Linked DNA regions of Homo sapiens: region 2 is linked to region 1. Evidence: fine-mapped expression QTL. A gene starts in region 1. The other region holds a variant in brackets. All regions are shown on one strand. Distances are between the middles of the regions.

The links. PIP is the estimated chance that this variant, and not a neighbour inherited with it, causes the effect. A credible set is the group of variants that fine-mapping cannot tell apart.
Region 2: its variant is the best candidate, but not a certain one, in a credible set for the expression of SLC27A6 in subcutaneous fat (GTEx, PIP 0.66).

The regions. Positions count from the first base shown.
Region 1 is chr5:128,962,893-128,968,279 of GRCh38, reverse strand. It overlaps SLC27A6 (solute carrier family 27 member 6), which reads right to left and starts at 2,792. Exons shown (of 10, transcript NM_001017372.3): 1 at 1,662-2,792. The coding sequence starts at 2,142.
Region 2 is chr5:128,991,304-128,996,690 of GRCh38, reverse strand. All of the region lies in intron 4 of SLC27A6 (solute carrier family 27 member 6), which reads right to left. Among named protein-coding and RNA genes, the nearest start is that of SLC27A6, 29 kb to the right of the region's middle. The variant CA/A (reference allele first, on the strand shown) is at 2,825.

The sequences.
Region 1 (5,387 bases):
ACCGGGTATATACCCAAAGGATTCTAAATCATGCCTCTATAAAGACACACACACATGTATGTTTATTGCGGCACTTTTCTCAATAGCAAAGACTTGGAGCCAACCCAAATGTCCATCAATGATAGACTTGATTAAGAAAATGAGGCACATATGCACCATGGAATACCATGCAGCCATAAAAAAGGATGAGTTCATGTCCTTTGTAGGGACATGGATGAAGCTGGAAACCATCATTCTGAGCAAACTATCACAAGGACAGAAAACCAAACACCACATGTTCTCACTCATAGGTGGGAACTGAAAAATGAGAATACTTGGACACAGGGTGGGGAACATCACACACCAGGGCCTGTCGTGGGGTGGGGGGAGTGGGGAGGGATAGCATTAGGAGGAATACCTAATGTAAATGATGAGTTAATGGGTGCAGCACACTAACATGGCACATGTATACATACATAACAAACCTGCACTTTGTGCACATGTACTCTAGAACTTAAAGTATAATAATAAAAAATAATAATAAATAAGAAAAAGTATACATTTGCCACTTTATCAGACCACAAGTTGAACTGAAAAGAACTAGGAACAGTGATAGCCTTGAAGGGCTAGCCCATTTTCCATATACTGCCTAACTCACTTTGGTTTGATATACAAATATTATATCATAAAGGTTATTTGAAAAGTTCTATACCTTAGAGATCACCAGGGTATAAATATATTTTTCCATATTGTTCTGTGAGTTTAAAAACTTTATACAAGGTATTGGTATGTATCTATTAATCTAAAATACTTAAATATTTTCATTATGGTCCTTGCAATGGATCTTCCTCTTTCCGCACCTTCCTTCCCCATTGAAGAAGACTCTGCATAAACCATTTAGATTACACCAAATAAGTATCATTTTTCATATTTCACTTCTATTTCATTAAGCAACCCATCTTCCTAGCTTCTTTACTAATTAGCCACTAAACCCCAGGCTTTTCTTTACAGTTCAGTGAAAATACGTGTAGCCTAAGATGTCCTAACTCCAAGGCAGGGGGAGGAGGAAGGGTAGAACTTAGTCAAAAAAAGAAAAGGATGCATGGAAGGATAAGAAGAAGAAACAGAAAGGCTCCTAGAGTCTGCCAAGAGCCCACGTTCTGGCTCACAGGTGGGAGCGCAACCTTGCTAGGCAAGTCCTAGCTTGCAGACAGTATAAAATAAGAGCAGACATGAAGAAAGGAATTCAGGTACCTTCCTTTAAACATATCTCTTCTGCAAATGTAGTCATCCCTGATAAAGTACAATTAGAGGTAGGTAGACGTGTCACAATGAAGTCAGATAACTTTCCTATTCACCATTTTGTCAGAGCTGATAAAATTTAGAAGTGACCAAGTTCTCTGTGTGTTCTTGCACTCACTGAAGGAACCAATAGCAGTAAAACTGTCCCTGTCTCAAAATGGTAGGAAGCAGAGATTTCATAAAAGTTTTCTGAAACTACGTGCCTGAAGGGAGGAGACAGTTGTTAAACCAGCATAGAATCATAAAACTATTTTGTACTCTTAACATGCACACTTCACTCACCCAAAATATTAGTTACGAATTATCCTAAAGAAAAAAAAAAGGGTATGAAAGCAGGTGGGCTGCCATTCTGTATAGGCAGACCACACCCCATACTCTACCTGCGCCCACCACTAGGGCTCTGGGCCCACAGGCGCGGATGCAATTCAGGAGGGAGTTGGAGCGAATGTTGGTGTTGAGAAAGGCCACCACGCAGCCCAGCTTGGCGAGGCCGAACCACACGTGAACGAAGTCCGGCTCATTGCTCATCAGCAGAGCCACCGTGTCCCCCTTTTTCAGAGAGGAATGGTTCAGGAAGACATGGGCCACTCTGCTGCTCCTTTTGTCTACATCCTGATAGGTGTAGATGTCTCCCTCATAGATGATGAAAGGTTTCCGAGGTTGTCTTTTGGCATGACTCAAGAATTTATCCAGCACAGTCACCAGCTCCCCTCTCTTTTCATACTTCTTCAGCCGAATTATAATGAGCACCACCTTCAACACGAACCAGAAGTCATCCCAAAAGTAAGGGAACAGGAGTTTCTGCAAGAAGTGCAGGACGACCATTCCAGCCCCTAGAACTGTTAGCCATGACAGAAGCATGGGGGCAACTGGGCCAGAAGACAGCTCTGATCTCAGCCCCCACCAGCGTCCTTCTCTTCCAGGCACAGCTCTCCACGGAGACCGCAGATCCTCACTACTCAGGGCTTACACCTGAAGTTCTTGTCAGCTTTTCCGGGGCGAAGCGGGATGGGGAGGAATCCTGAGAAACAGAATCGTAGGTTTGCACCGAAAAGGTCGCCCCAAGTGGTGCTGAAGATTAAGCTTGGGTCACTGGGCGGCTGGAAAGCAGGGAGCCTCCGACTCCTGCGAGAAACCAACACAGCCACCCTCAGGGGTCTTGGAATCTACAACCCCAGCGCTGCGCCCTCGCCTCCCAACCGCGACAGCGGCCCGTGCCCTGCGAGTTCCCCAGGACTTTCCAGACCTCTTCTCTGTGAGGGCTGAGTCAGTCCTCCCTGCTTCTGCGACCCTAAACAAACCTCACCACCCTCAGAAGAAGGTCCAGGGACAGAAGCTTTTCTCCTCTCAGGTAGTCTTTCCCGCGAGCTTGAGTTGGAGGCTGAATTCGAGCCGGGAAAAGCTGGGATGATGATGACTGAGAAGCGCAGCGATTTACAGTCTCTACGCACCAGAAACCGCGCAGGGGCTCAGCACCACGTCTCGGTCCGTGGCCTCAGGGCCAGCGGGTTCCAGGGTTCCTGAGCGCCGCCCCCGTCCTGCCCCGCCCAGCCCCGCCCAGTCCCTCTGACGCAACGGGTCCCGGAGAACTGCTCCTTGGTGACCCACGCGCCCGCTGGAAAGGGGTGCCCCTACCCCAGCCGCAGCTCGCACTCCGAGTGTCGTTAGGCTAGCCTAGTGTATTCTCCTCCGAAACATGGTGGGAGTGTTGCCTGCCCACCTTCGGCCTCCAGGCTCAGGGCTAACCACATCCCCTGGCGTGCCGCAGCCGGAACAGCCTGGGCCCCGCCGCCAGCTCCTCCCTGGGCGCGCGTCCGGCCACCTAGAGAAGTGTGGCGCGCCGACCTGCTCACACCCCAGGGAGGAGGCCCCGCGACTGGCGTCTCCGGCGGGGAAGAATGTGACAGTCCCGTGGGGGGAAACCCAGGGATCTGGAAGGCTTGGGGTCACAGGAGAACCAGAGTTGCTGGGATTGGGCGGCGCGGGGGCCCTGGCGAGGCTGATAAGGTATAACAGTGTCGCACAAAGGTCATCCATTGAACCAATTAATAACTAGAAAATGGAAAGAAAAGAACAAACATCAAAAAAACTGCAGGGAGAGAGAGGCAGGGAGGGAGGAAGAGAGGGCAGGAATATTTATGAACTGGACAGATCCAATAATATTTTGTAAGAAAGAAAGGAATATTTGGACACCACAAAATTGTACTGTTCTTTACAAAAAGTATTTTTGAAAACATGTTGATAGGTTGGTTTTTACATTTATATTAGAACTCTATCGTTAGAGAGCTAAGACAGTGCGTTTTACAAAATTTGGCAACAATATTGATTGATTTGAGAGCTTCAGTCGATATTCGTATTTAAAAATAAAAACAAAGTTTATAATGCTATTTGCAGTCCTTAAAAGTAACAAGATCCCCCCTCCCTGAGACAGATCATTTAAAGAATTATGTCTTCAAACTAAGGATTCTAAAGGGAGTGGGGAGGTGGAGTGGAGAAGTAACAAGTTAGTGGAATGGTTAATAAAATTTTATACGAAGATGAAATTTTACTAAAGATCAAAAAACTAAAGAACATTTCATTACACTTTTTTTTTTTAGCAGACACCATCATCCCAGCTGTCTGCTTTTAAGTGAGTATAAATGGTTAATTGCTTGTGTTAAAATAGTTAAGGAAGGCCTCACCTTGTTAGGTGTTTCTCCCTTCTGCCTCATGTTCTGCAGATGGATTCTGGCTAACCTCAGATTCTGTAATAAAAGAAAAACTGATAATTCCAAAGACGAGCTCCAGTTTATTAATCTGAAAATGATTACTTTGAAGTCACAGTGAAGAGCTCTTAAAGCCAAAGGAACATAGGCTCTTAAAGCCCTTTTCTGTAAATGACAAAAAAATGCTTTCTAAATTTACTCAGAAGCTTTGATCTTTTCGATTCAGAAATATCTTTTTAATTAAGAAAATAGTATCAAGTAGTTTATAACTTAAAACATTAGTTTACAACTTGAAAAGCATCTTTGACATTCTATTGTTTTCTCTTCTAGCTTTAGTCTAATTAAGTCACCTCCAAATAACAACATTTAACGAACACAAAAGAATATGGAGCAGTTGGTCTCAGACTTTTGTAGTTTTAATGAGTAAAATCTGTCCTTCTCCAGTGGAAAAAATAATACAGAAAGATAGGCGTGGCATTTCTTTTATTTTGCTGCACTTATTTTTCTTATCATGGACATTCTAATACCATCCTAAGGCATGGAACTAAATTTTTAGCAACTACAGATACAATGAATCTAGAATATATTCAGCACCATAAATGTGAGCTTGTTTGACTTATTAGGAAGAACTACAAGTAAGCATATGTTGGGCCAGACTTTGTACTAACCCAAACCAATTTTATGCCTGAAATCTCACCATGGAAGACATAATCAATGAAAAATCTTGGGACAGTTAACAGTATTGTGTATATTCCTATATTAGCCCATGTACCTGTTTCTATTTTGTCCAGAAATTTTGCATTCACTTTCAAATGCTACCAAAGGCAGCTAAGTAAAATAGATACAATTTTTAGCTACAATAGTTTAAGAATTTTGAAATGGGAGAAATATAGCAAGAGTTAGTTGCAAGTGAGTAAATCTATCATTTAACTAAAATAAAGAGAAATAAACACATAGAAATAGTCTAGACATTCCTGCTAACATTACTTTTGACTAGGAATAGTGTAATATTTCTCTGCTTCTCCTTTAAAAAACATAAAGACTGTTTGTTTTTCTTTAATGTTATTTGAAAATAAAAATATTGTGACTAAATGAAAATCAATGCCCCAAAAAAGTTTATTTTTAATCTACATGTGGTCTCTTCAACCTCTTCTTCATTTCTGATTTGACTTTCCTCTTTAACCCACTACCAACCACCTTTGCACCCTCAGTTCTATAGAGGATGAATTGTTTAGTGAGTAGATCAAAGTAAGACTGAACAAATAGCAATATATGACAGACATGGAGCCTACAGGATTTTGCCACTGTAACCTAAGAATTCTGACTCTTTGCTGTCAAATCACTTGTCTTCATAAGTCTTCTGATGGAATTCTATAGCAGTCATCATTTGGATTATGGGAG
Region 2 (5,387 bases), 28 kb before region 1:
TTCTAATTGAACTCTTAAACACTCTCACACTGCCATAAATCACTTCTTGTGTTCCAAAATTTTCATCTTGTCAGCCTCAGAAAAACAAAACAAAATAATAAAAAAAAACCTGTAAACTCTTAGGGGCTCACTGCAGGATTGTCTAAGCATTACTAATGAAAAATTTAACACAATTTGTAAAGTTTAAAAATGAATAAAAATACTTAATGAATACACTGATACTTTAAAACACCTCTCTTTTTATAATGGGAGTCAAGTGTAAGACATTTTGTCAAATTTCAATATTCTTTACCAAAAGTATTCAGAATCATAAGGATGTTTTCTGGCTCCCAGGGAATTTCTTAGCTTTTAAGAAAACAAAATAAGGAAAGGGGATATAATTTTTAGAAAATGCATTCCTAATAAGTATAGACTATGCCTTGAGAATGTCAAAATGTGGGTGTTCTACATTGACATATATAGACAAATTATATAGCCTAAATGTCAAACTACAAATAGTAGCTTGAAAAATAAGCATCATACATGTATCACACTATAGGTCCTTGCTTTGTTAATTAGGTCCTGTCTTTTGTACTATTCGAGCTTCAGATTCCTACATCCAATTGCCTATTTAGCTTATTCATCTGGATGCCTAATATATCAAACTTAACAGATCAAAAAAATTAATTTTAATTCCTCGAATCTCAGTTTTCTTCATCTCAGCAAATAGTTCATAATTTGCCTACATGTTTGAACCAAAAACCTGGGACTTATCCTTGATTCTACCCATTCCTTCACTTCCTATCCTTGATCTAACAAGTCTTGTTAGCTTTCCTTCAAGATAGATCCCAAAGTGGTCTAATTTTTTCCAGTTTTTCCTTCATCTTTTTTCAACTACTCTGATGGGAATAAAATCCAAGTTTCTCCTCCAAGATTACAAAGATTCAAGCCCTACAAGATCTAGTCAATGGATGGCCCAGCATACCCTCCTTCTCTTCAAACATTCAGGTGGTGTTTTCTGTGGGGCTCTTCCTTTTGAGTTTCTTCTGTCATGACGGCAACCTCCCAGCTTTTCTGTGCCTGGATCCCACTTGTCATATCAGGTCCTCGGCTCATAGATTACTATTTCTGTGAAGCCATCCCTGACCACCAAATCTAATTAGCAATGTCCTACTCCCACAGTCCATCATTCTCCATCACCGCACCCTGTTTTGTTTCTTCATAACCTTTGTCATTGTCTGTAATTACTTTTCATCTGTGTTTGCTGGGTTTATTTTCTCTCCCCCTCATCAAAGAGAGTATAAATTCTAAGAGAGAAGCAGTCTGATTTGTCCTGTGTGTCCTGTATATCTAATCCTACAATATTACTTGAATGAATGAATGAATGAGGAAATGAATATGTTACATATATGGTCTATCCCTAGATATATCCCTAGATATGGCTAACTGTTGACTGTGTTAGGTGGAATTGCTTATATAAGACAAACTCTGCAGCAAGACTCCCCTAGAGGATCACTGATGTCTAGAGTTCCAACATATTCCTCACCAATCAATATTAAAGACAACATTAGTATTAAGAAAATATAGAACTAGACCCAATCAGATTGTATGATGGTGCTTTAGTGACATAGAAAACTTGGAAGATTAAAAGTGAGGGAGAGCTGCTTTCCTAGTCTCAGGGGAAGAGAAGAACAACTTCATCTCACCATGACTAACAGGAGTCAGTCTCTTTTTCTGAAAACAATGCTGCTGCCAGCAGTTTTAAAGAAGTACATCTAACGTTTATGCCAAAAGAACTTTTGTAACTGGAGTTTTGAAAAAGAGAAGCAGTGGGGAATAGGGTGCATGTTTGAGAGATGGGAAAGGATAAATGCTTCTGGCCATAGAAAGCCAACCCTAGGGAGTCTTTGTGCAACTACACATAAACATTCAACTCACATTCTGACTTCTGCCTGCAGGTAAATTTCCTTTGGAATATGCTACTTACCCTGAGATTGTCAACAAATCTGAATCTATTTTAAAACCACATGGTTTTGCTTTCTTTTAAATAACTGTCTGTGGGGCTTCAAACCATGGCTTATGAGACATTCAATTTTAATTCTTTGAAGGTAAGGACCTGGACCATGTCACGTGTTCATTCTCTGGCTCTACCTGAATCCACTGATGTACTGGCTGGGCAGCAGAAACTGCCCCTTCATTTCAAGGGAATGTCATTGAAAGGAATATTGGACAGCAAAAATGTAAGATCTCCTTGAAGGGAAAAGATGTCATAACAGAATGACTTTCTCCTTTTCCTAATTTGTAATGCCAAGAACAGCTTGTACTCATTTTGTGTGAGTTCAACAAAGGGTATTAGGTAGTACAATGCTTCTCTGCTTAAAAAAAAATTATTAAGTTTCCCTTTGGGTAAAGCTGTATTTATTTCCTTCTTTCCTCCTCAGTTTGCATTCAGGTAAGCATTTGCAGATTATTTGATAAACATCATTTTTTCTTTGAAGAGATTTAGTTAAAAATTAAAATTAAAAATTAAATTAATTTTTTTTTTGAGACAGAGTCTTGCTCTGTCACCCAGGCTGGAGTGCAGTGGCACAATCTCGGCTCACACAACCTCCACCTCACGGGGTTAAGCAATTCTCCTGCCTCAGCCTCCCGAGTAGCTGGGATTACAGGTGCTCGCCACCACGCCCGGCTAATTTTTGTATTTTTAGTACAGATCGTTTCCCCATGTTGTATTTTTGTATTTTACAAAAACATAATTTTGTATTTTTAGTAGAGATGGTTTCCCCATATTGATCAGGCTGACCTCAAACTCCTGACCTCAAGTGATCTGCCCACCTTGGCCTCC[CA/A]AAGTGCTGGGATTACAGGCGTGAACCACCATGCCCACCCCTAAAAATTAAATTAATTAAAAAGCAATCAGGCATTCTGTTTTCAATTCTCAGTTCTCTCAAATTCTCCGAAGCTATAATATTTCCTCCAAATCAGTGCAATACAGATTCAGAGAGTTAAAAAGAATATTTCATTTCTTTAAAAAATTTAAAGAAAAACACTGAGAAAAGATTTGTAATCAATATGAAAAACTATTAATACCTTTATTATATGAAGTGGGAGTTCAACTGGATAAGGTAAAACATTATGTACCAGACAAATAAATGAGTACAAGACACAAAAGAGACATTTTTAAAGGGAAATACAGCTGGAAAACTGTCCCACCTTGCCAGTAATCTTAACAGAGCACATTAATATATGTTTGTTTCTAGTCTATAAAATTATAAACAAAAGTAAATAATCGAATTTACTTTTTCTAATTAAAAACCACTGAGGCATCCTTTGTTCAAACAAAGCATTATTGAGGAGCTCAGGAAATTGGGTTTAATTCATGATATTTGAAAGGGTGGGCCTTGGAAATTGGCCTGCTTTTACTCTTACTCACCATGTTTCAAGGACTTTTGAGGGAGCTTAAAAGAGCTTCTAATTTTCCAAGAAGCACAACTGGAAAACCACTATTTTTAATAACACCCAGTACTGACAGACACTGTGCAACAGGCATACTCCTACAATGTGCATGAGCTTCTAAATCACTTCAACCATGTTGAACAGCAATTTAGAAATATTTTCTATAAATCGCAAAAGTATCCACATACTTTGGCTATTTACATTCACTTCTGAAAACCTACATTAGCTCAATTGCATGAAGATACTAAATGCAGCATTAAGTTGGTAAATTTTAGAAATAAGTAAATTCATGTATTCAACCATTCAATAAATATTTACTGAGCAATGACATTACACAAACTGATGTCACTATTAAAGGATGAGAGGAAACAGGAATGGTGGAGCACATGGTTTAGAAAGCAGATGAGCTTCACTAGGTAGCACCTACTGTGTTCTGTACTAAAGTCATGAAATCTCAACTGAAGGTGACCTTAATCTTACTGGAGGGCATTAATTCCCTAAATTAACCTAGTCCAGATATCACATTACCAAAAAGTACAATGAAAACTAGAAGATAAAATATGTGAGGTTGTGGCATTCTAAGTGTATTATTGGGGTTCTTTAGATTAAGACTACCTCCCTTACCTGAGGCAAGGTCTCCTTGAAGAGAAAAATATTTAAAAAATGTAAAACATTTATCTGGAACTCTTTGTCTTGGCTATGAATCTGTGGAATCTATAGTTATTTGAAGCACTCCAGGCAAAAAATGAGTAAGGATGGCTTCTGCCACAGGGAGGTGGGTCAGAAGCTCGACTGGAGGTTTCTCCTTGGTGAACTCCAAGCTCAAAATGAAAAAGTCTTATTTAAATGCCTCCAGCCTAGTGTCAGCTGTGCTCTGGGTAATTAATTGAAAAATTACATGGCCAGATTTTAGCCAAAGAGAAGAGAAGATATCCCAGCACACCATTCATGCCTTAAGCAGATGTGATGATGGCAGAGGTGATAAGTGAGAGATCCTCTAGTCAAGGAAAGGTGGGTCTCAAAGGCCAAGGTTCTGTTGCCCCACCCCACGTAGGGCAATATCCTACTCTATTGAGAGATCCTCTAGTCAAGGAAAGGTGGGTCTCAAAGGCCAAGGTTCTGTTGCCCCACCCCACGTAGGGCAATATCCTACTCTATTGTCATTCTTGAAGGGGCTGATGTGGATCTGATGTTTAAAATAATCAGATAATAAAAGATAAATAATTTATAATAATAAAATAATATAAAGAATTAAATAAATTTGATTAAAGAAAGTAACTTCTTTATAGTCTCAAGAATGTTTAGAAAATCATAAAGTTAAAGAAGAAGCATTTGGAGAGATAAACGAAAGCAGGAAAAAGAAAATAACTTCTGAGGGCAAAAAAACAAATGAACCAATAAAGATAAACTTCAGGCTATTGCAACTGTCTCTGCTTATCTGTTTTTCAGATGGTGGCAGTTGATCAAACGAATGTGGAAATGACTTCTTCAGTTAAGGAGACAAGTGCAAATCAAAGCAATGTGGGTTTTTTTTTTTAATTTAAAGTAAAACAAAAAGATATCCTAATATAATCACTTATTCAAAAGAAAAAATAGAAAATAAATTATAATCAGTGTCAGTGGTCAGTAGTTATTTTTTTAAAGAACAGCATTTTAAAAGATTATTTTAACCTTAGAATAATTGCTTTCTGTAAACATAGCATGAATCTAATTTCATAATCTGATGCGTGTTATGTTTATAGAAATTTTAATTTTAGTCTAAACACAGTCTTTGGGTCAGTCCTATCCTGCTACAGTACAAAGCACATTAGTACATTCTTGGATAGCTCTCTGTTTATTTTCTTTCACTTGTCTTATTTTATCTTGGGGTATTGCACGCATCTTTGTAAGTCAGCTAAATTATGTTCTGAAAGAAGGTGAGAGACAGGACTAGCTGGATTTCCTAGGCCGACTAA